Homo sapiens: one gene and its partners. The protein of the gene in region 1 interacts with the protein of each later gene in a biochemical or structural test. Each region holds a gene or a part of one and is shown in the gene's direction. Other genes may lie near its edges.

Region 1 (5,784 bases):
CTCCACCTCTATCCCCCCAAGCAGGTGACAGTGAGTGAGTGTTATTCTTTCTTTTTCTTCAGTTTCTTTCATATTATATTTTCCACATCCCTTACTATATGCCCTCTTCTCTAATCTCCTAGAAGCTTGGAAAGCCAGCTTGCCCAGTCACGGAAGCAGGTAGCCAAAAAGAGCACGTCCTTTCGACCAGGATCTGTGGGCTCTGGTCATTCCTCCCCTACATCTCCTGCACTCAGTGAAAATGTCTCTGGTGGGAAACCTGGGATCAACCAGACATATAGGTGAGAAAATCTGAGGCTCTCTGTAGGCAGGATAGCAATGAGTGGTCACTGTGTAGGGGAAGGTTCCTTGGCTGTAAGCGAAGGGCTTAGTTTAAGCTTATGATAGTGAGGAGTTTGGACTTGAAAAGGAAGCTTTACCCATAGAAGTTCCTAAGAAATAGAAAGTAAGAATAATTGAATTGGAAGCTGGGTGCTTGGAAATATGGTATCATCTGAAAGCCATTTGTTAAAACTTCTTGTTGAACATGGTGCCATCATTGCTAAAATAGAAAGGAAACACCACAGCCTCTTTCCTTGGAGTTAGTAAGGACATTTTTAGAACACGCAGCAGACCAAAAAAACATTGGTAGAAGACTGGATTCTACTTCCATAATTCACAGGCAAATACATTTTAGGAAAAGGTATACTGTTGAAATAGAGATGTTAGGCCGGGCGCGGTGGCTCATGCCTGTAATCCCAGCACTTTGGGAGGCCGAGGCGGGTGGATCACCTGAGGTCGGGAGTTCGAGACCAGCCTGGCCAACATGGAGAAACCCTGTCTCTACTAAAAAATACAAAATTAGCCAGGCGTGGTGGCGCATGCCTGTAATCCCAGCTACTCAGGACGCTGAGGCAGGAGAATCGCTTGAACCCAGGAGGCAGAGGTTGTGGTGAGCCAAGATCGTGCCATTGTACTCCAGCCTAGGCAAAAAGAGCGAAACTTGTCTCAAAAAAAAAAAGAGAAATAGAGATGTTATCAGTCAGTGAAGAGTAACCAGGGAGTTTCATTGTCCAGGTTTGGTAGGGCAAGGGAAGATCTTTCTTGAATCATCTTTAGCTTCAGGAGCACAGCTGTTTGAAAGATGAGAGAAATGGCTTAGCTACCTGGAGGGTTAATTATAAAACAGAGGTCCTGTTGCCTTCCGATCTGATCACTTGCATCTCATTTGCAGATCACCTTTAGGCTCCACAGCCTCTGCCCCAGCACCCTCAGCACTCCCGGCCCCTCCAGCACCCCCAGTCTTCCATGGCATGCTGGAGCGGGCCCCAGCAGAGCCCTCCTACCGTGCTCCCATGGAGAAGCTTTTCTACTTACCTCATGTCTGCAGCTATACCTGTCTGTCTCGAGTCAGACCTATGAGGAATGAGCAGTACCGGGGCAAGAACCCTCTGCTGGTCCCGTTACTATATGACTTCCGGCGGATGACAGCCCGGCGTCGAGTTAACCGCAAGATGGGCTTTCATGTTATCTATAAGACACCTTGTGGTCTCTGCCTTCGGACAATGCAGGAGATAGAACGCTACCTTTTCGAGACTGGCTGTGACTTCCTCTTCCTGGAGATGTTCTGTTTGGATCCATATGTTCTTGTGGACCGAAAGTTTCAGCCCTATAAGCCTTTTTACTATATTTTGGACATCACTTATGGGAAGGAAGATGTTCCCCTATCCTGTGTCAATGAGATTGACACAACCCCTCCACCCCAGGTGGCCTACAGCAAGGAACGTATCCCGGGCAAGGGTGTTTTCATTAACACAGGCCCTGAATTTCTGGTTGGCTGTGACTGCAAGGATGGGTGTCGGGACAAGTGAGTTGGTGGGGGGAATTGCTGCCCCTGCTTCCAACTTTGTTATGGTGTCTGTTTCACCTCTTCCTTTGCCTTGTATCTGTACTGCTTTCCCCATCTTCCTTTACCTCCTCCCTCACCTGGAACTCCTGCTATAAGGCCTCCATGAAAGCTATGAGGTAGGGAGGCTGGAGTCTGACATGGCCACACTGAGCAACCTTGGGTACATGTGTATTGTGTTATTTTTGTTCTCTGATCCCCCCGCTCCTTTCCTTTATTTCCCTCTGTCATATAGGTCCAAGTGTGCCTGCCATCAACTAACTATCCAGGCTACAGCCTGTACCCCAGGAGGCCAAATCAACCCTAACTCTGGCTACCAGTACAAGAGACTAGAAGAGTGTCTACCCACAGGGTAAGTGGTCAAGGAATGGCACAGTACCTCAGAGAGACTGAGGAGCATGTTCTTGTTTTTCTGTGCTTATAGAAATCATCAGAAATCTAAAAATTGGAACCAAAAATAGAATACCAGATGAGGCATTTTATTAATTAGATCTTATTTCATGACTTCCAAAACACATTTTTTTTCTTGGACCTTCCTTGAAATGAAGACATAGAATGATTGAATAGTATCTAGCAATTTTCTGTTGCAAAAAAAGATTATCTTAATTTCATAGCTAAATGAATGTCTTAACAGATTGTGATTTACACTTGTAAGTGAAATGTGTTCAGAGAGGAGAAGTAGGCAGGGACCTGATTACATAGGGCTTTGTAAATCAGAATGAAAAAAGTTAGAATCAGGCTGGCACAGTGGCTCACACCTGTAATCCCAGCACTTTCGGAGGCCAAGGTGGGTGGATCACCTGAGGTCAGGAGTTTGAGACCAGCCTGGCCAACCTGGTGAAACCCTGTCTCTACTAAAAATACAAAAATTAGCCGGGGGTGGTGGCGGGTGCCTGCAGTCCCAACTACTTGGGAGGCTGAGGCAGGAGAATCGCTTGAATCCAGGAGGCAGAGGTTGCAGTGAGCCAAGATCATGCCACTGCACTTCAGCCTGGGTGACAAGAGCGAGACTCTGCCTTAAAAAAAAAAAAAGAAAAGTTAGAATCAAATTCATGGTGCTCTTACAGGATTTTAAGCTGCCAAGTGATGTGACCTGCCTTTTTCAGATTACTCTGGCTTCTTTGTAGATCATAGGTCTTAGGATGGCAAAAGTAGATTTTGGAAGACCAATTAGGAGATCGTTATAGGAGTACAGCAGAGAGAGACATTGTTGCAGCTATGACTTGCAATAGAATGGAGGTGATAGTAGAGGTAAGAAGGATAGATTTGGGCTGTATTAATAGGTAGAGCTACAGAATTGGATAGATTATGGAGTGGGGGGAAAGAGTAGAATCAAGGACAATTCCTAAATTTTTGGCTTGAGCATCTTAGTGGTTGTTGGTGCTTTTTACTGAGATGGAAGACCGAAGGAGTAGTAGGTTTGAGTGAAATTCAGTTTTTGTTTTGGCCATGTTAAGTTTGAAATGCCGCCGGGCGCAGTGGCTCACGCCTGTAATCCCAGCACTTTGGGAGGCTGAGGCGGGCGGATCACCTGAGGTCGGGAGTTCAAGACCAGCCTTGACCAACATGGAGAAATCCCGTCTCTACTAAAAATACAAAAAAAAAAAATTAGCCGGGCATGGTGGCGCATGCCTGTAATCTCAGCTACTCGGGAGGCTGAGGCAGGAGAATTGCTTGAATCTGGGAGGCGGAGGTTGTGGTGAGCTAAGATCGCACCATTGCACTCCAGCCTGGGCAACAAGAGCGAAACTCAGTCTCAGAAAACAAAACAAAACAAAAAGTTTGAAATGCCTGTCAGGCAATCCAAGTAGAAATGTCAAGAAGACACTGGGATTTCTGGAGAGAGTGGGATATAAAAATTTAGGAATCATCAGCACAGGAGTATTTAAAGCCTGAATAAGTTCACCTAGAGACAATGTTGATAATAGAGAAGGCGGCTCAGGAGTAAGCCCTGGGTGCCCCAACATTTAAAGGTTGAGCAGAGGAGGTGGAACCAGCATGAGGTTGAGGACAGCTACTGAGGAGGGTGAGGCCGAAAGATTACTTGAGGCCTGGAGTTTGAGACCAGACTGGGCAACATAGTAAGACCCTGTGTCTAAAAAAAAATTGTTGGGGCTGGGCGTGGTGGCTCACGCCTGTAATCCCAGCACTTTTCGAGGCTGAGGCAGGCAGATCACTTGAGGTCAGGAGTTCAAGACCAGCCTGGCCAATATGGTGAAACCCCATCTCTACTAAAAATACAAAAAACTTGCCAGGGATGGTGGCGAGCACCTGTAATCCCAGCTACTTGGGAGGCTGAGACAGGAGAATCACTTGGACCCAGGAGGTGGAGGTTGCAGTGAGCCAAGACCGCACCATTGCACTCCAGCCTGGGCAAGAAAAGCAAAATTCTATCTCAAAAAAAAAAAAAAATTGTTGGCCATGCGCGGTGGCTCATGCCTGTAATCCCAACACTTTGGGAGGCCAAGGTGGGTGGATCACCTGAGGTCAGGAGTTCAAGAACAGCCTGGCCAACATGGTGAAACCCCATCTGTAATAAAAATACAAAAATTAGCCAGGCGTGATTGTGCACGCCTGTAATCTCAGCTATTTGGGAGGCTGAGGCAAGAGAATCGCTTGAAGCTGGGAGGCAGAGATTACAGTAAGCTGAGATTGCACCACTGCACTCCAGTCTGGACAACACAACAAGACTCCGTCTCAAAAAAAATGATTTAAAAATTAAAAAAAAAATTTTTTTTTTTTTTAGATGGAGTCTTGCTCTGTCGCCCAGGCTGGAGTGCAGTGGCGTGATCTCAGCTCACTGCAAGCTCCGCCTTCCGGGTTCACGCCATTCTCCTGCCTCAGCCTCCCGAGAAGCTGGGACTACAGTCGCCCACCACCACGCCTGACTACTTTTTTGTATTTTTAGTAGAGACAGGGTTTCACCATGTTAGCCAGGATGGTCTCTATCTCCTGACCTCATGATCCGTCTGCCTCAGCCTCCCAAAGTGCTGGGATTACAGGCGTGAGCCACCGCGCCCAGCCTAAATTATTTTTTAAAAAATTAGCCGGGCATGGTAGATGCATGCCTGTAGTCCCAGCTACTTGAGAGGCAGAGGCAGAAAGATCACTTGAGCCCAGTAGTTCAAGGCTGCAGTGAGCTATGATCACACCACTACACTCTAGCCTGGGGTGACAGAGCATGACTCTTATCTCTAAAACAAGAGGAGGACAACAAAAGAGTGGGGTATAGCATGGTAAACTGGTATATATAAACACGTGAACTAATAAACCTAGTGATCAGAATACATAATTAACAGAACAGAGGAGAAAAGCATCAGTGAAATAATTCAGAAAGTGTCCCATAATTGAAGGATCTTTGTTTCTGAATTGAAAGGGCCAGTTAGGTCCCAACATAATGAAGGATAAAGGTAGGTTCCCATTAAGAGACATTATCATAAAATGTCAGAACACTGAGGGAAAAAAAAATCCTAAAAGCTTCTAGAGAAGAGAAATAGAACACGTTAAAAAATAGACTTGAAATGACTTCAGCCTTCCCTGAAAGTAGCACTAGAAGCTAGATAGCAATTGGAGAATCTGTTCAGAATTCTAAGGGAAAATTATTTCCAACCTGGAATTTTAAACTCGGGCAAACTATCAATTTGGTGTTACAGTAGGCTAAATACATTTTTTTAGACATGCAGTACCTCAGAGTTTTTCATCATTCCCCTTCTCAGAAAGTTTCTGGAAATATTTGCAAAAATGAGAGGGAAAGGCAGGAAAGGGGAAGACAGGTGACAGTGCAGTGAAAGAGGCTTCCAGGCTGACAGCTGTGTACTAGGCATAGAGAAGAGCCACTGCAGGAGCAGGTCAGATGCTGTAGGAGCGACTTCTTCAGGAAAATTGGTTTAACAGAAAAC
Region 2 (5,784 bases), on another chromosome or scaffold:
CATTCAGCTTCCTTTGCTTCTCCCAGAGGCTGTGGCCAGGCCAGCTGGGCTCGGGGAGCGCCAGCCTGAGAGGAGCGCGTGAGCGTCGCGGGAGCCTCGGGCACCATGAGCGACGTGGCTATTGTGAAGGAGGGTTGGCTGCACAAACGAGGTTAGTACCCGCTGCCAGGGCTGGGCCTGGGGAGGGAGAGATGGGGGTAGTAGCCCCAGGGTCTGTGAGTGCCTGTGCCCTGCTGGGTGGGAGGGGCTGCCTCCCCTGGGGCTCCTGGGCTGGCCTAGGGTGAGTGTCCTGGGCCCCATGTCTTCCCATGGCATGGAGGGCACGGCCTCGGGGAGGCCAGGAGGATGAGGCCCTGTGCAGGGCCGGCCATCTGAGTGGCTTCCTGGTGTGGGCCCTGGCAGGCGGGGGAGCTGCTGCCAGCCTCTCTCCTGGCTTTCCTGGAAGGCAGCGAGGACACTGGGCTGTTCCAGGGTCTGGCACGCTGGCGGCCCAGGGCACTGCCCAAGGGCTCCTGAGGGCAGGGCAGGGCTGCTTGGCTTGGCCTGGTGCCTGCTTCAGGCCTGAGCTTTGGGGGTGGGGGGAATCCGTACCGCCTGGGCACAGGGCATGTTTGCCTTGGAGCTGCAGAGCTGGCTGAGCCAAGTCCCCCAGCCCCTGTGTCCCCCTCCTCACTCATTTGGCCTTGCAGCCTATGGAGGAGGTGCTGCCCGAGGGGCCTGGCCAGCAGCTGGGTGGGATGGGAGCTGGGGACATAGCCCCACCCCTTCCAACCCTGTGCAGGCCCTTCTGCCTCACCCACCCTCCGTTGCTCAGCGGGGTGCGGTGGAGTCTGGGTGGCTGTTTTGCTCCTCTGTCCTGCTAGGGTGGGCTTCCTGTTCAGGTCCAGGTCCTCTGGCCAAGTCACTCTCTTCTGCCCCAGGCGGAATCGGTCCGCCCTCTCCTGACTTCTTTTTCCAGACTTGTTCCCTCCTAAGTTCTAGTGATCTCATGCCAGCAGCCCCCCGGCTTTACGTACACCCTCTAGCAGATGGGTTTCACATCTGGTAGTGGGGAGACCCCAAACACAGCTGGAGCAGACAGGGAGGTGTGGCAAAAGTAGGTGTCACAAGATGGGGCATTGTGGGATGTATAGGAGCTCACAGAAGAGCAGGCCTAAGGAGCCACAGGAGCCTGGGGGTGGGGTGAAGGAGTGACCGAGATGAGATGCTGGGGGAATCAGGGGTGTGGCTGGCTGTGTGTTTGGAGTGTTTGAGTGGGCAGCTACCAGTGATGGCACGCGGGGCCTCGAGATGAAGACAAGGAGGCTGCAGACGCCTGTGGTCCTTGGGGAGCTTCTGGCTCTGCTTCCCCCCAAGGCCTCCTGCCGCATCCTGCCTTCTCCATCCCCTCCCCGTGTGCTGTCCCCTGCTTGTTCCCCAGGAGTCCTGCCACCTGTGCCTGGAGGTCCTCTCCTCACCTCACAGCCCTCTTTGGTGTCAGGGACCCCCTGCCCCGACCCTGGCCCTGTTCCTCTCTGTGTCACATAGTCTGCTGCCTGGGGCCGCTGCTTCTTTATCCTTGGCAAATGTGTGTTTGTTGATAGACTGTTGGATCTCGGGCTGACCCAGGAGATGCCAGGGCCTTGACTGCCCAGGGGCCCAGGCCCCAGTTACTGGGGCACCCATCAGCCAGCTGGGCCTAGGCAGGAGTGCTCCCCCGAGGCCAGGTGATTTTCAGGCTGCTGCTGATGTCGTGCCTTCAGGAGGGGCCTGGCAGGGACAGGACATCAGGCCCAGTGGGGCGTCCAGAGAGCTGAGTTTGAACCCTGGTTAGCCACTCTATCGCCATGACCCTTTCCAAGAGCAAGGTCATTGAGCTCCTTGGGCCTCAGTTTCCCCATCTACACCAGGGAGCGGTGGTGGGAGAGAGACCTGGTGGAGTGGAGAATGGCTTGTGGGCGGCCCTGAGTTGGGGTCCGGCCAGCCTCAGCAGCCTCTGGGCTCTGTCATCTGGCCCCTAGCCTCAGGCCAGGAGAGAGGGTCCTGTACCTCTACCCCCGGCTCTTCCTCCTCCATCCCCAGTGTAGTGGGCGCTGAGGATGGGAGGTGGCGTGGATATGACATATGCCCTTGGCAGGCATAGCCCCTCTTGTTGCCGAGAGCAGGTGGCGTCCACCCGCATGGCCGGCCGCTCCTTGCGGAGGAAAGCCTGTCCTCCGGGGCCTGCCGCATTTCGCCACTCCCGTCCCTGGGGTCCCCTGTGTGTCTTGCAGATGTGCTGTGCCACCCTCCTGGCAGGGCCAGCCCCACCCGCAACACTGGTTAGAGGTACTAGCTGCCTTCCTGTCCCTAGCAGGGCTGTGCTGGGCTGACCCCACCCGTGCTTCACAGTGCTCAGGCCTGGCTGGGGGTGGGGAGGGAGGGAGGGACGCAGTGACTGTCCTCCAGGCCCGGCCGCAGCCCCTTGCAGACGCCCTGTTCCACTCCCCCCCAGCCTTGCTCCTGCAGGTCAGGGTGCTTGTCTCAGAGGCTGGCCCGCACCTGTCCCCTTTGCCGGGACTCCCCACGACCGTGGCCTGGGGCACTTTGGTTCTCAGCTGAATCCCCAGGTGACAGTCCCACCACGGCTACTTGGGCTGGCCACACGTGGCGTGATGGTGCCTTCAGGGGTGATGTGGTCATTGAGATGAGAGGGGACGGGTATGCCCTGTGTGTGAGGGGTGGGGTGGCAGTGTCTGCAGGCTCCTTCTCCTGCTCCTTGGGAGGTGAGCGTCATCTCTGGGAAGTGGCCCAGGCTGCTTTCTGTTGTTCTGATGTGTGTGCTCTGAGTCAGAGGAGCTTCAGGGACAGAAGGGACCGGGCATGGGGACACAGGAGTTCCGGCTGCAGGCCTGTGTGGACCTGTGGCTGGACCCAGGCGAGGCCTCTGGGTCTGCACATCTAACAGGGAGATGGTTCCTGGAGGGTGAGCTTAGGCTGTTAAGGGCAGGAGCTAGTGAGGAGGCTGGTGGGGCCTATAGGGACAGGGGGCCAGATGTCCCCTCCTGTTTCGGCTGTCTCACTGGATAAGCAGCCCAGCTCAGCTCTGGCCATTGGTGGTCTGGTGGGCTCAGTGTTGCTCAGACGTTTGCATTTTCAAAGATTTGTTCTGTTGTGTGAAGTCTCCTGATTTTTGAAGGCTGACAATTTTAAAAAATCAATCCTGGGCCAGGGCGCAGGTCTGGCTGAACTCGGCCTCCAGCCTGCAGTTTTCCTTCCTTTGATAGCTCCGTGCCAGGCTTTGGCCAGAGGCTGTGTGGCTCTTTTGAGGTACTTTCCCCAAACAGCTTGCTCACCTTGCCCGCTTGCCCCAGTACTCCTGGGGCCGTGCACCAGCCTGGCTGCAGCCTAGCCCCGTGGAGAGCTGCCCTGGTGCAGCCCCGGCCTGGAGCCTGTTTTTGTCCACTCGCGGCTGTCTTCCTGAGCGTCCCCCCGTCCACATGGCTGGACCAAGTGGGTCAGGAGAGGGCCGAGGCGGGTGGCCGGGATGCTGGGACCCAGGATGAGGTGCTCTGGGCTCTCGAGAAAGGGCTGGGCCTAGGCCAGGAGTGGGTGCCGGCCGCAGGGGCACCACCTGGACTCCCTCAGGCTGGTCGCTGTCCGAGAGGGGCCGGGGAAGAGCTGCAGGCCTGGCTGCCTTCGGCAGGCTGTGACCCAGCAGGCCAAGGCCGAGTGGGCGGGGGTCGAGGGAAGCTGCCTGGGGCGCGTGGGTTACGCGGCAGACGCTCCTGAGTGTGTGGGCAGCGTGTCCAAGCCACGGATCTGGGTGCCTGGCCGGGCCCGGGTGACACGGGACCGTGTGTCCATGCGGCTCACGGAGGGTCCAGTCTCCGGACATCTGAGTCCTTGCCATGCCCTACCCCGGGCCCATGCCTGGCATAGACCCCCCAGTCCAGGCCTCAGGGCAGCCCCCTCACCACTCCTGCTGAGTTAGCCCCAGGCGTCCCGGTGGGGAGTATGGAGGCTGGTCTCTGACCCCAAGCAGGTGCCTAGGCTGGGCCTCCTTCCCACCCCCTCTCCCCGCCTTGAAGTCCTGGCACTGGCTGTCCCTGCGGGGGGGCACTGAGGCAGGGAGAGAGTGGTTCCTACCCCAGTGTGTTACTTCGCTTTGGTGAGCGACATAGAACCTCACTGCATCCCCAGCTGCTGCTCAGCCATCCAGCTGGTCCTGGGGTCCCTGCGTGAGGTGGGGGACCTCAGAGGGTACAGGCCACTCCCCTTCATCCTGGAGGAGGCCTTGGCTTTGCTGAGTAAACACCCTTGAGAAGAGGTCTGTGGGGGACTCTGAGCCCACTCCAGAGAGCAGCTGCTGCGGAGGGCCCCGCAGGGCTAATTGTTTGTGTGCAGATGGAGGCTGCTCATTACCCCGCCAGGATGAGGGGCCCAGCAGGACCCTGAGGGAGGGAGCCCGCAGACTCTCCCCTCAGCCTGTGGGAACCTTTGGGCTCCAGGCCAGGGCTGCCTGTGCCTCCTGGGCCTCAGTTTTTCCCAGGCTGTCAGGTGAGGGTCAACCCCAGGCTGCGTCTAGGTGGCTTCAGTGTGAGACCCGCGGGCCCTGGGCTGGTTAGTGCCAAGCTCTGCCTCCCCTGGGGGAGCGTTGAGGGTCTGGAACGGCCCCCGTGGGCAGGCCAGGGACAGAGATGGGGAGGCAAGTGTGCTGGCTCCTGGTGGGAGGGCTGGGCAGAGAGTGGGGGTCCCAACAGCCCTGGGCCTACCCGGGAGAGGGGCAGGAGGCACAGGCTGGTGGAGGTCATGGCATGGCTGTGGTGGAGGCCGCCAGCATCAGGGAGGTTCCTGTTTTGGGAGCTTGTTGAGTTCTCACTTCAAAAACAACAAAAGAGGAAGCCGAGGTGGCCTTGAGTGGGGGTGAGGGGTCACTGCTGGCCCCAGCCCTGGACCTTAGCCCCCACGCCTGGTGGCTCCTGAGTGGACAGCTCTTCTTCCTGTGTGTTTCTTGGTCACTGGCCCTCTCTGGGCAGGGATGCCCTGTGGGGGGCTGGACTCCGGGAAGGGAAACTGAGGCCCAGGAGAGTGGACAGAATGTGGGTGGAATGATTCCTGTGCTGGGGCCTAGACCCCCGTACACCTTCCACTCTCAGGAGAAGCCTGGCCGGGTTGCATCAGGCCGGGTTCCTAGAAGTCCTGCACGAGGCTGAGCGGAGGGAACTGGCGCGGCCCCCGCTGGCGTCCCCTCTGCCTGGGCACACCCGGCCCGGCTTGGGGCCAGCACCCTGCCCTCGGGCCCTCCCATAGCTGAGACTGGTGGCTGTGGCTGTGGCTCTGGGCCTGCTCCCCAGGCCACCCTGGGTGGGCAGCTGCCTGCTGCTTCTGTCTGCTTGGACCATTGTGCCTAGTCCCATGGCCTCAGGAGAAGGTTCCCCCAGCCCAGCGCTGGGGCCCCGGGCAGGTTGGCAGAGGGCCCTGGGGCTCCAGGCCAGGATGGGGCTGTTAGGCGAACCCTAGGCCCCTTACTTCCTCATCTCCAACGGGAGTTCCCTTCCCTGCCATGCCGCCTTTAGGTGTGTTTTCCTTGAACCTTAAGGAATGATAGGTTTGGATTTCAGAAACGTTGGAATTGAGGGGGTTGGGAGTTCATGGGTGACTCTGCTGCCAATGTTGCGGGCTTTGGGGTGGGATCCTTGGGGCGCTGTGTTTGGGCTCACACACCCCCCAGGCGGGCCCGGTGACTGCAGACCCCACCCATACCCTGTAACCTGGCGGGCCCACCTGCCCAGGCCCTCAGCTGGTTGTCCAGCTCAGGGGTGG
Region 3 (5,784 bases), on another chromosome or scaffold:
CAATTATGCATCTGAGGGAAAAATGAAAATAGGTCCTTTCCTCTTTCTATGTGCTAAAATAAATTCTAGATGGATTAAGGACTTAAATTATAAATGACTTGAGAAAATATAATTAAAACTTGAGAAAATGTAATTTCATCTTTTGCAGCATGTGTTACAGGACAGTATTACCATCTCAAAGATCTGTGAGTTGTGGCTTATGTGACAGCAAATAATTCAAATTGGCTAAAGAGAGGAGTTCTGGTGTTGGTAGGGATCCCCAATTAGTTTGGGTGGCTTTTTATTCTCAGCAATGAATTCAACTTCACTGAACGGGTTCTATGATAGGCAAACTATATAGTTAGAAATATTTAACTTACTTGCACCTTTTATCAGCAGTTTTACTTGTCTCCCCTAAGCATTCTCATGCAGACATTTTCCAGGTGAAATACCTCTCCTCAGAGCCGGAAGTTTAACCAGTTATGAAGTGTGTAATGTTAATGACCATTTAGTTCATGTTTTTCATGAAGTTTAACAAATTTACTCTGAGCTGGCACTCTGCATTCTTACTATATATTGTAATAATTGCACAGCCATGGTATAGCACCGTGTCCTTAAATAACTTACATCAGTGAAAGGCTTCTTTACCACCAGTAGGCTTCACTATTTCACACAACATGGAGTAGAGAAGGATGTCACAAGGAAGAGAGATCAAACTTTAACCATAAAAGAAAAAAAATTATTTAACTTGACTATATTAAAATTAGGAAGAGCCTAATAAGATACCTGTAACTCATATAACAAAGGATTGACAAGGAATATGTTTTTGGTTTTTGGTTTTTTTTTGTTGTTGTTTTTTTTTAAGACAGTGTCCCACTCTGTTGTCCAGGCTGAAGTACAGTGGTGTGATCTCGGCTCACTGCAACCTCCATCTCCCGGGTTCAAGCGATTCTCTTACCTTGTCCTCCCAAGTAGCCGGGAATACAGACGTGTGCCACCACACCCAGCAAATTTTTGTAGTTTTTAGTACAGACAGGGTTTCACCCTTTTGGCCAGGGTGGTCTCGAACTCCTGGCCTCAGGTGATCCGTTCGCCTCAGCCTTCCAGAGTGCTGGGATTACAGGCTTGAGCCACTGCACCTGGCCGGAATATGGTTTATAATATGTTAAGTATGCTTTGAAAATGAAAGAGGAAAGACACCCCAAGAAGTCATGAGCAGGAAATAACCAGGAATTTTTACAGACAAGTAAACATAGCTAATAAACATAGGAAAAGATGATAGTAATTAGGGAAACCCAAATTAAGACAATGAGAGCTAATTCTTTATCCAAGTAGATTGGCTAAAATCAAATCTGGCAATACCAAGGGTTCAAGAGGATGTGGCTCAGTGGTAACTCTTACGTATTGACTGTATGGATGCAAACTGGTAAAACTGCTCCAGGAAATAATTTGGTTTTCTTGAAAAGTTGAACATGGATACCTTTTCAGTATCTAGAAATTCACTCAGGAAATGCTTACACATAAGCCCCTTGAGACAGAAATAATCAGAATAGCATTGTTGTGTCAGAACATCAACAAGAACTGGAAATGTAATCCCAGCACTTTGGGAGGCTAAGGCATGAGGATCACTTCAGCCCAGGAGTTTCAGACTAGCGTGGGCAACATAGTAAGACCCAATATCCACAGAATTTTTTTTACAAATTAGCCAGTTGTGGTGGTGCATGCCTGTAATCCCAGCCTCTTAGGAGGCTGAGGTGGGAGGATAGCTTGAGCCTGGGAGGCTGAAGCTGCCATGAGCCATGCTGCACTCCAGCCTGGGTAACAGAGCAGCAAGACCCTGTCTCAAAAAAAAAAAAAAAGGAACTGGAGGTGACCCAAAGATCTTTCACAAATGATCAGATAAACAAATTTTGGTATATCTACCCAAAGAATTATTACAGTGCAAAGAAGAACACGAATTATTGCTATACGTAAGCACATGGATGAATTTTGTACATATACATAACTGAAAAAACAAGTATTAGCTATAGTTTGCTCAACAACAAAATTAAACAGTATATTTGTTTACATATGACATTTATGATGAAACTGTAGAAAAAGTAATAGAATTATAAACTAAGTTTAGGATACATCATCAGGATGGAGAAGAGGTGCAAGGGGCATAGTTTGGAGAAACATAAGTAAATGCAGGTTACTGATAGTATTCTACTTATTTGTTGCAGGTGTTTCAAAGATGTTCACTTTATTATACTTTGTAATTAACACATATTACAAGTCTTTTGTATGCATCAAATGTAGAGGCATTTTTTTACTCCAGAGCTTAAATTTCAGCACGTTTTACTAATTTGGGCCTTTTCCAAAGGCCCTTAGAAGGGCCATAGTAACAATATGTTCACGTGGTTGGATGTTTTCATCAGATTTACAATAGTAAGATATTTTAAGTATAGTCATTTAAGACCCCTGTCTCTCTTCACCTTGATTTCTTCTTTGTGTCAGCTGGCAGTAGAGTGGTTTCAGGCATTTTGTGATTGGGGGATTTATTTGTGTTTAGTGGGATGTGTTTGTGATTCAGAGTCATTTCTGGATGTAGGTAATTATAGCCTGTCAGCCTGATTGTGTTGGGAATGTGGTCTCTGGTGCCTGGCACCTGTAATATGTGAGTATTAGAGAAGCCAAAGTGCAAATTATGGAACCAGAAGGTAATCAGGAAAAAATTCCCAATTATCTGATGTTTAAAATTTTAAGTGTAGGATTTCGTTCTCATCAATTTCCAGTCAAAACAGCACTTTTCTCCTGTCAAAAATAACATAGCACATTCAATTATAAATTCACCATATATTTATTTTCTTTTTTTGATAGGAATCCTGCTTTTTTTTTTTCTTTGAGACACGGTCTCACTCTGTCACCCTTGCTGGAGTGCAGTGGTGCAATCACAGATCACGGCAGTGTCTAATTCCTGGGCTCAAGTGAACCTTTTGCATCAGCCTCCTGAATAGCTGAGACCACAGGTATGTGCCACACCTGGTTGAATTCTCCCTTTAAAATAATATAAGAATGTTTTTATTTGTAGGACACAAAACTGTAGCAGTGTCTTCAGGCAAAGCTGCTAATTTTATGCATCATGATTATCACTTTTAGCAAATACATCATAAAACCATGCTAGAGGAAAGATTTGATTTGTTCATTTTCTTTGGAAAATAATACAAAAATTGTATTCATGAAGAGACAATCATATAATACACAGTCCTATAGGAAAAATAGAATTGTATAGGCATATTAGGGTCTTAATTAATGAAGAGTATTGTGCTGTTTTTTGGATTTATTTAGTATATATATCAGGTTTGTTTGTGTGTTTGTTTTAAGACAGAGTCTCGCTCTGTCATCCAGGCTGGAGTACAATGGCACGATCTCGGCTCACTGCAACCTCTGCCTCCTGAGTTCAAGTGATTCGCTTGCCTCGGCCTCCCAGAAGCTGGGATTACAGGCATGTGCCAGCATGCCTGGCTAGTTTTTGTATTTTTAATAGAGATGGCGTTTTGCCCTGTTGGCCAGGCTGGCCTGAACTCCTGACCTCAGGTGATCCACCTGCCTCGGCCTCCCAAAGTGCTAGGATTACAGGCGTGAGCCACCCTACCAGGTTAGTTGGCTTATTTATTTAAGCTGGAATGTTATGTATCTTAGTGCTGGTTTTATTTTATTTTATTTTATTTTATTTTATTTTATTTATTTTATTTTATTTATTTTATTTTATTATTTTATTTTATTTTAATTTAATTTAATTTTTATTTTATTTATTTTACTTCATTTATTTTATTTTTATTTTGTTTTATTTTATTTTATTTTTATTTTATTTTATTTTATTTTTAGACTGTCTCACTCTGTTGCCCAAGCTGGAGTACAGTGGCGCGATGTTGGCTCACTGCAACCTCCACCTCCCGGGTTCGAGTGATTCTTGTGCTTCAGCCTGCCGAGTAGCTTGGGATTACAGGTGCATGCCACCATGCCTGGCTAATTTTTGTACTTTTAGTAGAGACAGGGTTTCACCACGTTGACCAAGCTGGTCTCGAACCCCTTACTGCAAATAATCCTTCCAACTCGGCCTCCCAAACTGCTGGGATTACAGGCATGAGCCACGACACCTGGCCACATTTATTTTAGAAACTTGAACATTAGGAAAGCTTAAACAGATGCCATTATGTATAGAAAATGGAATGTTTTATAAAAACTTTTTTTTGTTTTTATGAATAAGTGCAATTTAATGTTTAGATTATTTAAACTATGACTTACCTGGATAAAAAAATAGTGAATGGTTATAGCACTGAGGTGATATAACAAGAAGTGGCTAGATAAAACTATCAGGTAGAGGCTTACTAGCAATACAGATTTTGAATTTATGTAGTTTAGATTTATAGAAACAATAGAAAAGATTTTTATGTTTTCAGTGTCATGAAAATGGATATGATTTTCAGTAAGGTGATTATCTAAATATGGAGAGACAGTGTCAATGTTATTTTAATATTGTAAATAAATAACTTTAATTCAGTAGTAAATAACTTTTATTCACTAGAGAAATGCATTTAAATATGATGTCTTAAATTCCAGGATATGAAAGATGGCAAGTCCAGATAGAAGTAAACGGAAGATATTAAAAGCCAAAAAGACAATGCCCCTAAGTTGCCGGAAGCAAGTAGAGATGCTGAATAAGTCAAGGAATGTTGAAGCGCTGAAAACAGCAATTGGGAGTAATGTTCCAAGCGGTAATCAGAGTTTCAGTCCTAGTGTCATAACTAGGACGACTGAAATAACCAAATGTAGCCCTTCTGAAAATGGTGCATCCTCATTGGACTCTAATAAAAATTCAATATCAGAGAAAAGTAAAGTATTCTCTCAGAATTGCATAAAACCAGTAGAAGAAATTGTTCATTCAGAAACAAAATTGGAACAAGTTGTTTGTTCGTACCAAAAGCCAAGTAGAACAACAGAATCCCCCAGCAGAGTCTTCACAGAAGAGGCAAAAGATTCACTGAACACTTCTGAAAACGATTCTGAGCATCAGACAAATGTAACAAGATCCCTTTTTGAGCATGAGGGGGCTTGTAGTCTAAAGTCCAGTTGCTGTCCACCCAGTGTATTGAGTGGTGTTGTTCAGATGCCAGAGTCTACAGTAACCAGTACCGTGGGTGACAAGAAAACTGACCAGATGGTTTTCCATTTAGAAACAAACTCCAATTCAGAATCACATGATAAAAGGCAAAGTGACAACATTTTATGTTCAGAAGACTCAGGTTTTGTGCCTGTTGAGAAAACACCTAATTTGGTGAATTCAGTCACTTCTAACAACTGTGCTGATGACATTTTGAAAACTGATGAGTGTAGTAGAACCAGTATTTCAAATTGTGAAAGTGCAGACTCAACATGGCAGTCATCACTTGACACTAATAACAACAGTAAGTATATACTTATGCACCTTTTAGAAAAATTAAAATAGTCACTTTTCTTTAGGGTATTTTAAAGTCTCAAATATACAAACCAGTATAGACAGAAAAAAGGTAAATGATGACAATTATTTCACAGTATCTTGTTTCTGAACCATTCTTAGTGAGGTGGGGGACAGGTATCCACCATATTAAAAGGGTAATTATTGCAAAGAAGGAATCAATCACTTTTCCTTAAGTACAAAATATCAAAAGGTGGTTTATAGCAATTATTTGGTTCATTTCATATACATCTCTTCTTATTTTGAAGTTTTATTAGATTAAGAAGGAGGCTAGTTGAAAGAGTGAGTTTTAAAAATTGTTGGTAACC
Region 4 (5,784 bases), on another chromosome or scaffold:
AGTCACTCGAATGTCATCTCTGGGTGCAGGTGTAACCAGTGCCAAAAAGATGCGCGAGGTCAGACCTTCACCATCCAAAACTGTGAAGTACACTGCCACGGTGACGAAGGGGGCTGTCACATACACCAAAGCCAAGAGAGAACTGGTCAAGGACACCAAACCCAATCACCACAAGCCCAGTTCCGCTGTCAACCACACAATCTCAGGGAAAACTGAAAGTAGCAATGCAAAAACCCGCAAACAGGTGCTATCCCTCGGGGGGGCGTCCAAGTCCACTGGGCCCGCCGTCAATGGCCTCAAGGTCAGTGGCAGGTTGAACCCAAAGTCATGCACTAAGGAGGTGGGGGGGCGGCAGCTGCGGGAGGGCCTGCAGCTGCGGGAGGGGCTGCGGAACTCCAAGAGGAGACTGGAAGAGGCACACCAGGCGGAGAAGCCGCAGTCGCCCCCCAAGAAGATGAAAGGGGCGGCTGGCCCCGCCGAAGGCCCTGGCAAGAAGGCCCCGGCCGAGAGAGGTCTGCTGAACGGACACGTGAAGAAGGAAGTGCCGGAGCGCAGTCTGGAGAGGAATCGGCCGAAGCGGGCCACGGCCGGGAAGAGCACGCCAGGCAGACAAGCACATGGCAAGGCGGACAGCGCCTCCTGTGAAAATCGTTCTACCTCGCAACCGGAGTCCGTGCACAAGCCGCAGGACTCGGGCAAGGCCGAGAAGGGCGGCGGCAAGGCCGGGTGGGCGGCCATGGACGAGATCCCCGTCCTCAGGCCCTCCGCCAAGGAGTTCCACGATCCGCTCATCTACATCGAGTCGGTCCGCGCTCAGGTGGAGAAGTTCGGGATGTGCAGGGTGATCCCCCCTCCGGACTGGCGGCCCGAGTGCAAGCTCAACGATGAGATGCGGTTTGTCACGCAGATTCAGCACATCCACAAGCTGGGCCGGCGCTGGGGCCCCAACGTGCAGCGGCTGGCCTGCATCAAGAAGCACCTCAAATCTCAGGGCATCACCATGGACGAGCTCCCGCTCATAGGTAGGTCTGGGCGGGGGGTCAGGGGGTGGTGCCTGCCCTCCTGCCCCCAGATCCCTGCAGTTCCCTCACAGTCTTCACGTTCTCTTCCCTTGCGAAAGCTCCAGTTCCGCTTCCCTGTCTCGGGAGTAGTGGGCTTCTCAGCTCATTCCCCCTGCAGCCCTTCTTCCCAGGTCCTGGGCGTTGGTGGCAGGATAAGAATGGTATTGAGCTGCCGGGCGCGGTGGCTCACGCTTGTAATCCCAGCACTTTGGGAGGCTGAGGCGGGCAGATCATGAGGTCAGGAGATCGAGATCACGGTGAAACCCCGTCTCTACTAAAAATACAAAAAAATTAGCCGGGCGTGGTGGCGGGGGCCTGTAGTCCCAGCTACTTGGAGAGGCTGAGGCAGGAGAATGGCGTGAACCCAGGAGGCGGAGCTTGCAGTGAGCCGAGATCACACCACTGCACTCCAGCCTGGGTGACAGAGTGAGATTCCGTCTCAAAAAAAAAAAAAAAGTATTGAGCTTGGATCTGGGGTGAGCCCCCACTCTGGGTCTGGGCCCCTTGCTTCCCCTGGGCTGTCACCTCCTACCCACAACTGCTGGAGTTAAAGCAGGGGCCGGGGGGCCAGTGGGGAGCGCTGCCCCTCTGGATTCCACACTGGATTATAGAGGCTGGAAGCCCAAGGTCTAGGGGCCAGCAGGGTTGGTTTCTCCCGAAACCAACAAGACCTCCCTCCTTGGCTTGTGCATGGCTGTTTTCTCCCTGTGTCCTCACAGGGTCCTACCTCTATGTGTGTCTGTGTCTTCATCTCCTCTCCTTAGAAGGACATTGGATTAGGGCCCATCCTACTGACCTCTTTCTAACATAATTACCCTTTTGAAGACCCTGTCTCCAAATTCATTCATGTCCTGAGGTACTGGAGGTCAGGGCTTCAACATATGAATTTGGAGGGATCACCATGCAGCCCATAGCCCTCTAGGGTCCTGTAGGCCATTTTTTATCCTGCTCAGCCTTGTCTCTTCTTCCTCTGAGCTTCAGTTTCTCTGGCGATTTTGTCAAGGCCACAGGTCAAGGGATCTGTTGACCTTTTTTCTGAGACCAGGTTTTTTCTGAGACCTTTTTTCTGAGCTCTGGCTGGGGCTGTTGGAAACTTGTCACAGTGGATCCTTAGTGAATGCATATCTGGGCTGTCATGCAGACCCTTGCTCCTCAGGGTGGGTTGCAGGCAGATCCTCCTCTTGGGTTCCCCTGTAGCCCTCCTTCCCTGTCATCCTCTCTTCAGTCCTGCCACTGGGGACACAGGGTGAGGATGAACTTGCCTTGTTAAGGCTAAGTGGATTCTGTGGAGTGAGGTGCATCCAGGTAAGGTTGCAACCCCATCAGTCTAGACCCATGGGAGGAAACAGGCCACACCTCCATTTTGGAGATCCTCAATTTTCAAAGGCATGGAGACGTGTAGCCATCATTTAAGTGTCAGGGATTTGGCAGCAAGATAGGCTTCCAGGCAGGATGGAGGTTTCGTGGTTCCCCTCAGCAGGTGCCTGCCAGGACTGATGCCTGAGTGACAGTCACCTTAACTTGCAAGAGTTCTTGGTTTGTGCTCTGCTGTTGGGAATAGCACGTGATAGGAAGCAGTGCAGGGAGCAGGCTCTGCACACGCGTGCACCCACGCCCGCTGACCACGCCCCATGACTACTTGGGACACAGGATGACTGAGTCAGTGATGGAACCGCACCAAGTCCTCCTGCCTTTGGAGACCTGCAGACAGGAGGGAAACATTCCAAGTTTCCCTCCTCTGCTAGGTGGATGATGGAGCCTCGAGAGCACACTTGACATCGTAGTGACAGCGCCTTTTGTTTAGAGTAGGTTTTTCTTTACCCTCGACTCCCTTACCCTGGGACAAAAGCCATACTGTGCCTCCCTGTGGTGTGCTTATGCTTGTTGCCGTCACCCAGAAGTCTAAGGCGTCTGACATTCTGTCCCAGGGGTACTGACCTGTCTGTGACCCAGCAAGGCCTCAGGGCTGGGGTCTGAGCTCAGCCATCTGACAGTGGTAGAAACTTAATAACTTTGAAGTAATAGCCTAAAATCCACCCCAGCAGATGTGCCTTCTGCCTCTGTGTAGGTTCACTTCCACCGCAGGTCCCAGGGAGCCGCCGTGCCGCTGGCGGGAGTTGGGTGGGGAAGGGGCTCGGCCACGTAGCAGCCTCAAGGCCCTGAGTGGGAGTGATCGCAGCGGATGAGGATTCCATGAAGAATTCTTGCAAGCGCTGTGTGATTTTCAGGTGCTCTTGCGTTATAATCTACTTAGAGTGAAATATGAAAGTGTGGATTTCCTCCCTTCTGTGACCTGTGTTCTGAGTCACTCGGACGGTGGAGGACTTGTTTTGGTTGGGGGACTCGTTTTGGTGCCTACCTCTGTAAGTTGAGACAGTACCCACCTGCCCTCGGAGGAAGAACTCCCGATTGTCAGCCAGAGCCACCGTGAGTCCCACCTGTGACTCTGGGAGTCTGTGAGACCTGGAGTTTGTTGTGGAGTCTCAGTTCTTAGGTCCCTCCTGTCGAGGCTGGGGACAGTTCCCTCATGGATGTTACCCCAACTCCCCTGTTCTCCACAACCACATCAGTCCACTGTCCTGCCATTTAGTGTGAGTGGAATTCAGGCTGCTGTGTCCCCATCCCTGGTCTTGCTGGTGTGCTGGGAACTCGCTCTCTGTGTGTGCTGTGTCTGCCGAGGTGGTTCAGACGCTTCACCTAGTGGGTCCTGTCATGCTTGGTATGTGCAGCGACCCTGCCTGGACTGGATCCGTGCACACTTTACCTTTTATTACTTAAAAACAATATATCCCCACACTCTAAAGATTTAAAACGTTGTTAATTTGTACTTTGTTTAGTATTTTGTTGATGGTTATTTTGGAAAATCTCCCCTACCCCCCTTCCTTTATTTGGCCCGAGGGAGGTTGCTTTCTCCATTCCCATCTAGAAAAGCCACTGGGCGCGCGTTAAAACCTGCCCAGGTTTGATGTGCATTTGCGCTGCTCTGTGGCCTGATCAGGAGGGGCACTGAGCACCAGCTTATGCACTGAGAAGCAGCCCGCTGTCTGGATGGGCGAGGGACGAGGCATAGATGTGCTGCCCTGTGTCCTCACGCAGGTGTTGCTCTTTGCTCTGGAAATCCAGCAGGATGGAAAATAGACTTCCTTTGTGTGAGTGAGTGGGTGGATGGGTGAAGTTGAGTGAGTGAGTGGGTGGGCATTGGGAATTATAGAAGGGGAATTGGGAGTTGGTAACAAGCATGTGTCAAAGCTATTCTAGGTGACGCTGGGCCGTGGGTGCAGCCAGGACCCCTACCCACTCCTCACCAGGGAGCTAGTCTTCTCATGACACCCGCCTCCATGTGACAACACATGTACCAGTACATGGTACACTGGGATGTTCCTCCCTGTATGTCTGTCTGGCCAGCTCGCATCCTTTTCCAGCCAAGCCCCAGCTTAAATGCTGCCTCCTCAGACGCTCCCCACCTAAAATGGTAGTCCCTCGTTCCACCTGCTCTTCGTAGCAAGTGGTCATGACCCATCATTTTGTAACGCCCTTCTCTCTGTGGACCGGGAGTCTGCTGTTCACCACTCTCACCCCAGAGCCTGTCAGAGTCCTGGCTCATAGTAGGAGTTCAAGAAGTACAGGTTGAATGAGGAACATCTTGTTCGTGTCTCTTTCACTAACTGTCCCGTTTTTTTCCCCTTCGCTGTCCCAGGGGGCTGTGAGCTCGACCTGGCCTGCTTTTTCCGGCTGATTAATGAGATGGGCGGCATGCAGCAAGTGACTGACCTCAAAAAATGGAACAAACTAGCAGACATGCTGCGCATCCCCAGAACTGCCCAGGACCGGCTGGCCAAGCTGCAGGAGGCCTACTGCCAGTACCTACTCTCCTACGACTCCCTGTCCCCAGAGGAGCACCGGCGGCTGGAGAAGGAGGTGCTGATGGAGAAGGAGATCCTGGAGAAGCGCAAGGGGCCGCTGGAAGGCCACACAGAGAACGACCACCACAAGTTCCACCCTCTGCCCCGCTTCGAGCCCAAGAATGGGCTCATCCACGGCGTGGCCCCCAGGAACGGCTTCCGCAGCAAGCTCAAGGAGGTGGGCCAGGCCCAGTTGAAGACTGGCCGGCGGCGACTCTTCGCTCAGGAAAAAGAAGTGGTCAAGGAAGAGGAGGAGGACAAAGGCGTCCTCAATGACTTCCACAAGTGCATCTATAAGGTAGGGGCCTCCGCAGAGCAGCCACTCCCAGCTGCAGGAGTGCGGGAGGAATGAGAGAGGAAGTGGAGCGTGCTATGCACTGGACGGTGTGTTCTCTGATTCCCTGGGGTGATGAGGGGGCGGGCCACTGTGCTGGGTGATAGCGCTGTATTAGTCCTCTCGTGTTGCTGAAATACTACAGACTGGGGAATTCATAATAAACAGAAATGTACTGGCTCCTGGTTGTGGAGCCTGGGAAGTCCAATATCGAGGAACCTAGTGAGGGCCTTGTGGGTGCGTTGATGGGGCAGCAGGAGACCCAGTGAGGGAGGGGAAGTCCACTCCACGAAGATACCACGAGTCCATTCCGCCTGCCTAGGGCCTCGGGTTTCCTTTTCATTAACTGGCTTGCGTGTGCGTGTTGCATGCACGTGCACACATCTCCATATGCCAGGGATAAGTAACTGGGCTGCATGCTTCGTTTCCCCTGCTTCTCCAGTTCCGTTTCATCCTGGTGCTCGACAGCTGCCCAGATCCAGCTGAA
Region 5 (5,784 bases), on another chromosome or scaffold:
GTAAATATTACCTAGATGTAATTGAAAGTAATACTTTTGGTTGGTGGATTTTTAAATGACGTCACATATGAGATAGAATGGAGGTAGGAAAGATTCTTCTTTTTTTCTCAAGAGAATATTTGACCTGATGTAATTCTTGGATCTCTGAGGTCTTCTACACAGAAGTATATTTAGAGAGCAGTTGTGTAATTTTCTCCCTTTTATGTTTCTGGAGTGGTTACCTAGCAGCCCCTTTCTACCACATGCTATTTCAGGCATTTTCGAGTTGAACATACACATAAATATTTCGGTTAACAAAAGAACTTTGATCTTTGATCTTAGGGCATGGTACACTTTACATTTCCAGAAAAATGAAATAGTTTGGTGTATATAAGCGTATGTTTTCATTTGAATATACAGATGATTGCTTTTTAGGTTAATATTGAAGGTAGTAAGAGGTATTTGAAAATGCTCTTGAATATGAAGAACATATTTATTGATGGGACGATTTTGCTGTCATGTTTCTTACAAGGCAGATATAATCATGTAAACTTAATAAGATTAATTAATTGCCTGAACACCAACTATTTGTTTATTAGTACTTTGTCAATAACAAGTATATTTTAAAATTTTAGTTTGGTGGTTATGATGCCACAAAATTTTGACACATATCCAACATATATAAATATTAAGACTAGGTTACTCCAGGAATGAATACCAAGTTACTGAAGTTATTTAAAATCTTTGTAGTTTTGTAAATTTAAAAATTTATATGTAGTTTAGAAAAGACAGGTTTGAGTTATTAAACAATTAGAACTATTTTTTCTTTAAATTAGGTTTTGCATATGTGATAAATGTATTTAAATATTTTTAAACTTATTCATTATAGAACATTTGGAAAATATTGAAAATTAATTAACAATGCTTAGAAATAACCACTCTAAAGGTATTGGTGATTTGTGACTTCACTTTTCCATGATTGAGCAATCTATAAATGTTTATTAATTAGTTTTTCATTGGTACCATAATTTCATTTCTACTCTTTTAATGTTATGAGTATTTTCCCATTTCATTATTCTTCTAAAATATGTCTTTAAATGGTTGCATGATACTTTATTATAATATCCCACATGATCAAATGTTCTTTTTAAACACATTTTAAAATGGTTACATATTATTGTTATCTCTAAGAAGAATTTACTGTGATTTATTAAACCTTTCATTTTTTGTTTCCTGTTTTGCTTTTTGCTCATTTCTCTATTAAAAATAATGCTACAGTGAACGTTCTTGTACTATACCTCAGAATATTTCTTTGAAATTACTTTCAAAGGACTTTTAAAGTAATTTGCAAAATTGATAAAAACTTTTTTTTGAAAAGCATTTTTTATCATATTCAATACCACCATCAATTAGATGGGTGAAAAATAGTAGCTCATTAACTTTTTTTGATAACTAGTGAAGTTGAATTTGTTATTGTTTTATATATGCATTTTTTTCATTTTCTGTGAATTAGCTGTTTGACTTTTTGTGTATTTTTCTATGATGAGTGTTACTGTTTTTCTTATTTGTTGGTAACAGCTACTTACGGCTTTGGGGTCCTTAGCTTTTAATATTTGTCACAGTAATTTTAAAATTACCTTTTAAGTGGTTTATGATTGTATATGTTAAGAAGTTTTGCATTTTTATGTAGTAAAATGTACTGCCCCCCTTTTTTTTTTTGAGATAGGATCTTGCTCTGCTGCGCATGCTAAAGTGCAGTGGCAGTGATCTCTGCCCACTGCAGCCTCGACCTCCCAGGCTCAAGCAATTCTCCCACCACTGGAGTAACTGAGACTACTGGTGAAGGATATCACACCCCGCTAATTTTTTCTTTTTTTTTTTTTTTTAATAAACAAAGCCTCATTATGTTGCCCAGGCTGGTCTTGAACTCCAGGGGTCAAGAGAGTTTCCCACTTCAGCCTCCCAAAGTGCTGAGATTACAAGCATGAGCCACCATGTCCAGCCTGTACTGCCTTTCCTTTTTCCTTTATGATTTCTACAGCACTTGTCTGCCCAGAAAATATTACCTGTTGTAAGGTGAATTGTATGTTTATATTGTATTTTATTTTATTATTATTGTTTTTTGAGGTGGAGTCTAGCTCTGTCTCACAGGCTGGAGTGCAGTGGTGTGATTTTGGCTCACTGTAACCTCTTCTTGGGTTCCAGCGATTCTGCTACCTGAGCCTCCCAAGTAGCGGATTACAGGCGTGCACCACCATGCCCTGCTTTTAGTAGAGACGGGGTTTCCCCGTGTTGGCCAGGCTCGTCTTGAACTCCTGACCTGAGGTGATCTGCCTGCCTTGGCCCCCACAGTGCTAGAATTACAGGTGTGAACCACCGTGCACAGCCTTGTTCATGTGTTTTGTTAATTTTTTACTAGAACTTTTTCTGGAAGTTTTAATAAACTTAAAAAATACTTTTACATCTATGTGGACATATCTGTGTTTTGACATATTGTGTGTTAAGATAAGTTGCTAGTTTCCATTTTTTTCCAGATATCTAGTTTCCATAGACTTGATCCATTTCTTATTGCTTTGGTAGCAAACAATTCTGATTCATATACTAGGTATATTTAACCTGGGGTCCATTGTCCTCTAGGGGTTCCACCGATCCCTTGATATACACAATTTTATGTAAGTCTGCATATGTTCATTTTTTTTTTTTTTTGAGATGGAGTTTCGCCCTTGTTGCCCAGGCTGGAGTGCAATGGCACGATCTCAGCTCACCGCAACCTCCGCCTCCCAGGTTCAAATGATTCTCCTGCCTCAGCCTCCTGAGTAGCTGGGATTACAGGAATGTGCCACTATGCCCGGCTAATTTTGTATTTTTAGTAGAGACGAGGTTTCTCCATATTGGTCAGGCTGGCTCGAACTTCCTACCTCAGGTGATCCGTCTGCCTCGGCCTACCAAAGTGCTGGGAGTACAAGTGTGAGCCACTGCGCCTGGCCTCCTATGTGCATTTTTCTGGGGAAAAAGTGATAGCTTTCATTAGCTTCTCAAAAGAATATATGATATAAAGTTTAAACAGAGGTTGACAATGACTGTATCTGGGCCTTATTCTTAGAGCATTATTGCATTGTTTTATTTGCTGTAGGACGGTACACAATTTAAATATGTGTTTGTAGTGCTATATCCTATATAAAATCCAATACCCACTCACAATTCTATTTTACAATTTTCATAGCTGATTTTGACTGTTTTTGCAGATCAACTTTAGGTTCATTTGGTTAATTAAGAAAAAAAAGCCAGCTAATGGTTTTGGTTACAATTCCATTAAATTTACATTGGGTGAATTTATAACCTTATACTATTTTTTTTAATTCATCGGTATTACACACTTCCTGTAGACTACCAAAAAGCACTATTTCCTAGGAACTCTGGGAGAATTTGTGGTATCTGTGACTTTTCAGGAGGATGTTTTCTTGGTGCAGCTATAATTTTAGTAGGGATGAATTAGGAGACAATATAAGGTTATATTTCTGTTTTCAATCTGGTTTAGGACATGATGACATAAAAGTAGTATCAGTATGAAGTTAGACGTGGGAAAAATAAGTCGCAAAATAAAGTATTGTACAATATTCGAAATCAAAATCCTTTTTTGTTAAACACAGACAATTTTTTTTTTTTTTGATGGAGGAATTTGAAAAGGTACCTTACTCCTTTTCTGGCCAGGGTGAGGCTTAATCTCATAATAAAGATAAAAAATTTTTATTTTAGTTTCCTTGGTATCATTAAATTATTATATTTTCTGATAAGGATGTTTCCCTAATTATTAGAATAAATTTATTTTCCATTAAATCTCTTTTTTATGCTGATTGCATTGAAAAAGATTATCTTGATTAATAAGGATGTATTTCAGCTGTAATTCTACTTTATATCTTTTAAATAATTGATTCAGGAGTCAGTTTATTGCCAAAATAACATTTTTATTGAACTAAACTTGTAAATTAGTGGAGGAATGAAAAGAAGAAATCACGGAAATATAGAACTCAAATGATAAAATATTATTGGCTTTATGAAAATAAATCTAGAAAATGGATATAAAATATTAAGATATTATTGGCCTTTCTTAAGCAGTTTATCTTTTTTAATGAAAAATCCCTGCCTTTGGGTCTTTTTCAAGCAACACTGCTTATAACAGCTTAGATATTTTACTTTTTTGTGAAAGTTGAGAACTTTTTCTAGTTCTGGTTTATTATTATACTTGGTTTCTAGACTATAACAGATGAGGAGTAAAAAATTAGAAGTGCTACTTGAGAAATGCATTTTGGTAGGGAAAAGAAATGATGTCCAGCATCATGATAGTAAAGGAGGGTTATATTTCTACTGTTAGAAGCAATAATTTATAAACTTAGTTATGAGGCTATTTAGTTTGGGAATCAGTATTCCCAGAGCTGAATCAGTAGTTATAGAATGTTCATTATTAATTGATGATTTTATTAATGATTCTGAATCAGAGAATATTGTTATATTTAACCTATTTCAGAAGGGAAATGAGCGTGTGATTTAGTTTAGAAGGATTTCTATTATAATTTTTTCTTTTAGGTTTTGAGGCCTATGGAAAATTTATGCATTGGCTGCATACCTTGTTTTTCAAGGGAGTCACATGTATAAAGAAGCTTGAGAATAAAGTTCCTGCCTTTTGAGTTTCTAACAGTTGTGGGGCATATTATTGATTGAAAAATTAGGTGATGTTTTAACATTATTTAAACAGATTACCTTAATGTCATTAATTAGCTTCAGAGACCATAGTCCTTGTCACTTTCCTAGAGTACTTAGAAATTGCCTATCCTTTAGTGGAACTCTCTTTTAAACTTCTTGCTTGTTTGACCTTATATTTTATTAGAGAGGCCAAGAGTATTTAAACATTACTTTGCCATGTTCTTTCTCAGATTGTCCTGCCATCCACAGAGTAAATCAGGGGCTCCTCCAGGCATTTTAATTTGTTGAAAACAAAGAAAATTAAACTTTTTATAGATGATTCAGCTTGCATGGTGGAAACCATTTTGTATTGGAGACAGAGAGTGAGTGCTGGGGAGCACTTTCAGTTAAGAATAAGTAGATCAGGGCTACTAGTGCTTGTTTATATGGTGTGAATGTTTCAATTTTAAATTTCGATCATTTGGAGTTTAGAATCTTTAAGAGGATGACTCAGGTACCTCAGCCACTTTTCAAAAAAAAAAAAAAAATACCATAGGCCTAAGGGAACAGTTATACCTTCCTGAGAGTCTTTATAGTTGGACCTATATGAATATGAGAATCTGGGAAATGAAGATGACTTATTAACTTTGCCATCAGAAATATGCACTTATTCATGTCTGCAGTTTTCCATTGCTCAGAATATTATAAGAAACATTTTGTGTTCTTTTATATCCAATAACTGGTAGTAACTAGCTGTATTTGGGAGAGAGGACCCCTTTGTATGATGGTGATGTGAGGTAGTAATGCCATAATGTCTTACTATATATGATCCGTTCTCCCTTTCTTTGTTGTTTGTATAGCCCTATGCTACTTTGGGGAAGTATTATCTGGTTTGATACCTAGAAATTATGTGTCCATCACTCTTGGCATTCTAATAATTTAACATTCTAATAAGAAATTTGATTTGTATGTTAGAATAGTTGTCCTCAGAACTGTCAAAGCTGTAAAAGGAACTTTCTTTGGTTCAGTAATTCTCAGTGATAATGCCTACCATTTTGTAGAAGGATAAAGCTAAAAAGATGGAAAGGGAATCTGCTGTTTTGAGGACCAGGAGAAAGAGTTTGA

The links.
Region 2: the proteins of SETDB1 (region 1) and AKT1 form a complex in vitro, tested with the Homo sapiens proteins (one study listed by BioGRID).
Region 3: the proteins of SETDB1 (region 1) and ATF7IP2 form a complex in vitro, tested with the Homo sapiens proteins (one study listed by BioGRID).
Region 4: the proteins of SETDB1 (region 1) and JARID2 form a complex in vitro, tested with the Homo sapiens proteins (one study listed by BioGRID).
Region 5: the proteins of SETDB1 (region 1) and ATF7IP form a complex in vitro, tested with the Homo sapiens proteins (one study listed by BioGRID).

The regions. Positions count from the first base shown.
Region 1 is NC_000001.11:150,949,245-150,955,028, forward strand, and holds part of SETDB1 (histone-lysine N-methyltransferase SETDB1), read left to right. Parts: coding exon 1-34; intron 35-122; coding exon 123-281; intron 282-1,213; coding exon 1,214-1,846; coding exon of another isoform or gene 1,847-1,850; intron 1,851-2,120; coding exon 2,121-2,237; intron 2,238-5,784. UniProt on the Homo sapiens protein: Histone methyltransferase that specifically trimethylates 'Lys-9' of histone H3. H3 'Lys-9' trimethylation represents a specific tag for epigenetic transcriptional repression by recruiting HP1 (CBX1, CBX3 and/or CBX5) proteins to methylated histones.
Region 2 is NC_000014.9:104,786,965-104,792,748, reverse strand, and holds part of AKT1 (RAC-alpha serine/threonine-protein kinase), read left to right. Parts: intron 1-26; 5' UTR 27-105; coding exon 106-151; intron 152-5,784. UniProt on the Homo sapiens protein: AKT1 is one of 3 closely related serine/threonine-protein kinases (AKT1, AKT2 and AKT3) called the AKT kinase, and which regulate many processes including metabolism, proliferation, cell survival, growth and angiogenesis.
Region 3 is NC_000016.10:10,426,030-10,431,813, forward strand, and holds part of ATF7IP2 (activating transcription factor 7-interacting protein 2), read left to right. Parts: exon of another isoform or gene 1-2,838; 5' UTR 2,839-2,987; intron 2,988-3,342; exon of another isoform or gene 3,343-3,616; intron 3,617-4,581; 5' UTR 4,582-4,591; coding exon 4,592-5,426; intron 5,427-5,784. UniProt on the Homo sapiens protein: Recruiter that couples transcriptional factors to general transcription apparatus and thereby modulates transcription regulation and chromatin formation. Can both act as an activator or a repressor depending on the context.
Region 4 is NC_000006.12:15,496,149-15,501,932, forward strand, and holds part of JARID2 (protein Jumonji), read left to right. Parts: coding exon 1-1,022; intron 1,023-4,758; coding exon 4,759-5,261; intron 5,262-5,784.
Region 5 is NC_000012.12:14,367,270-14,373,053, forward strand, and holds part of ATF7IP (activating transcription factor 7-interacting protein 1), read left to right. Parts: intron 1-5,784. UniProt on the Homo sapiens protein: Recruiter that couples transcriptional factors to general transcription apparatus and thereby modulates transcription regulation and chromatin formation. Can both act as an activator or a repressor depending on the context.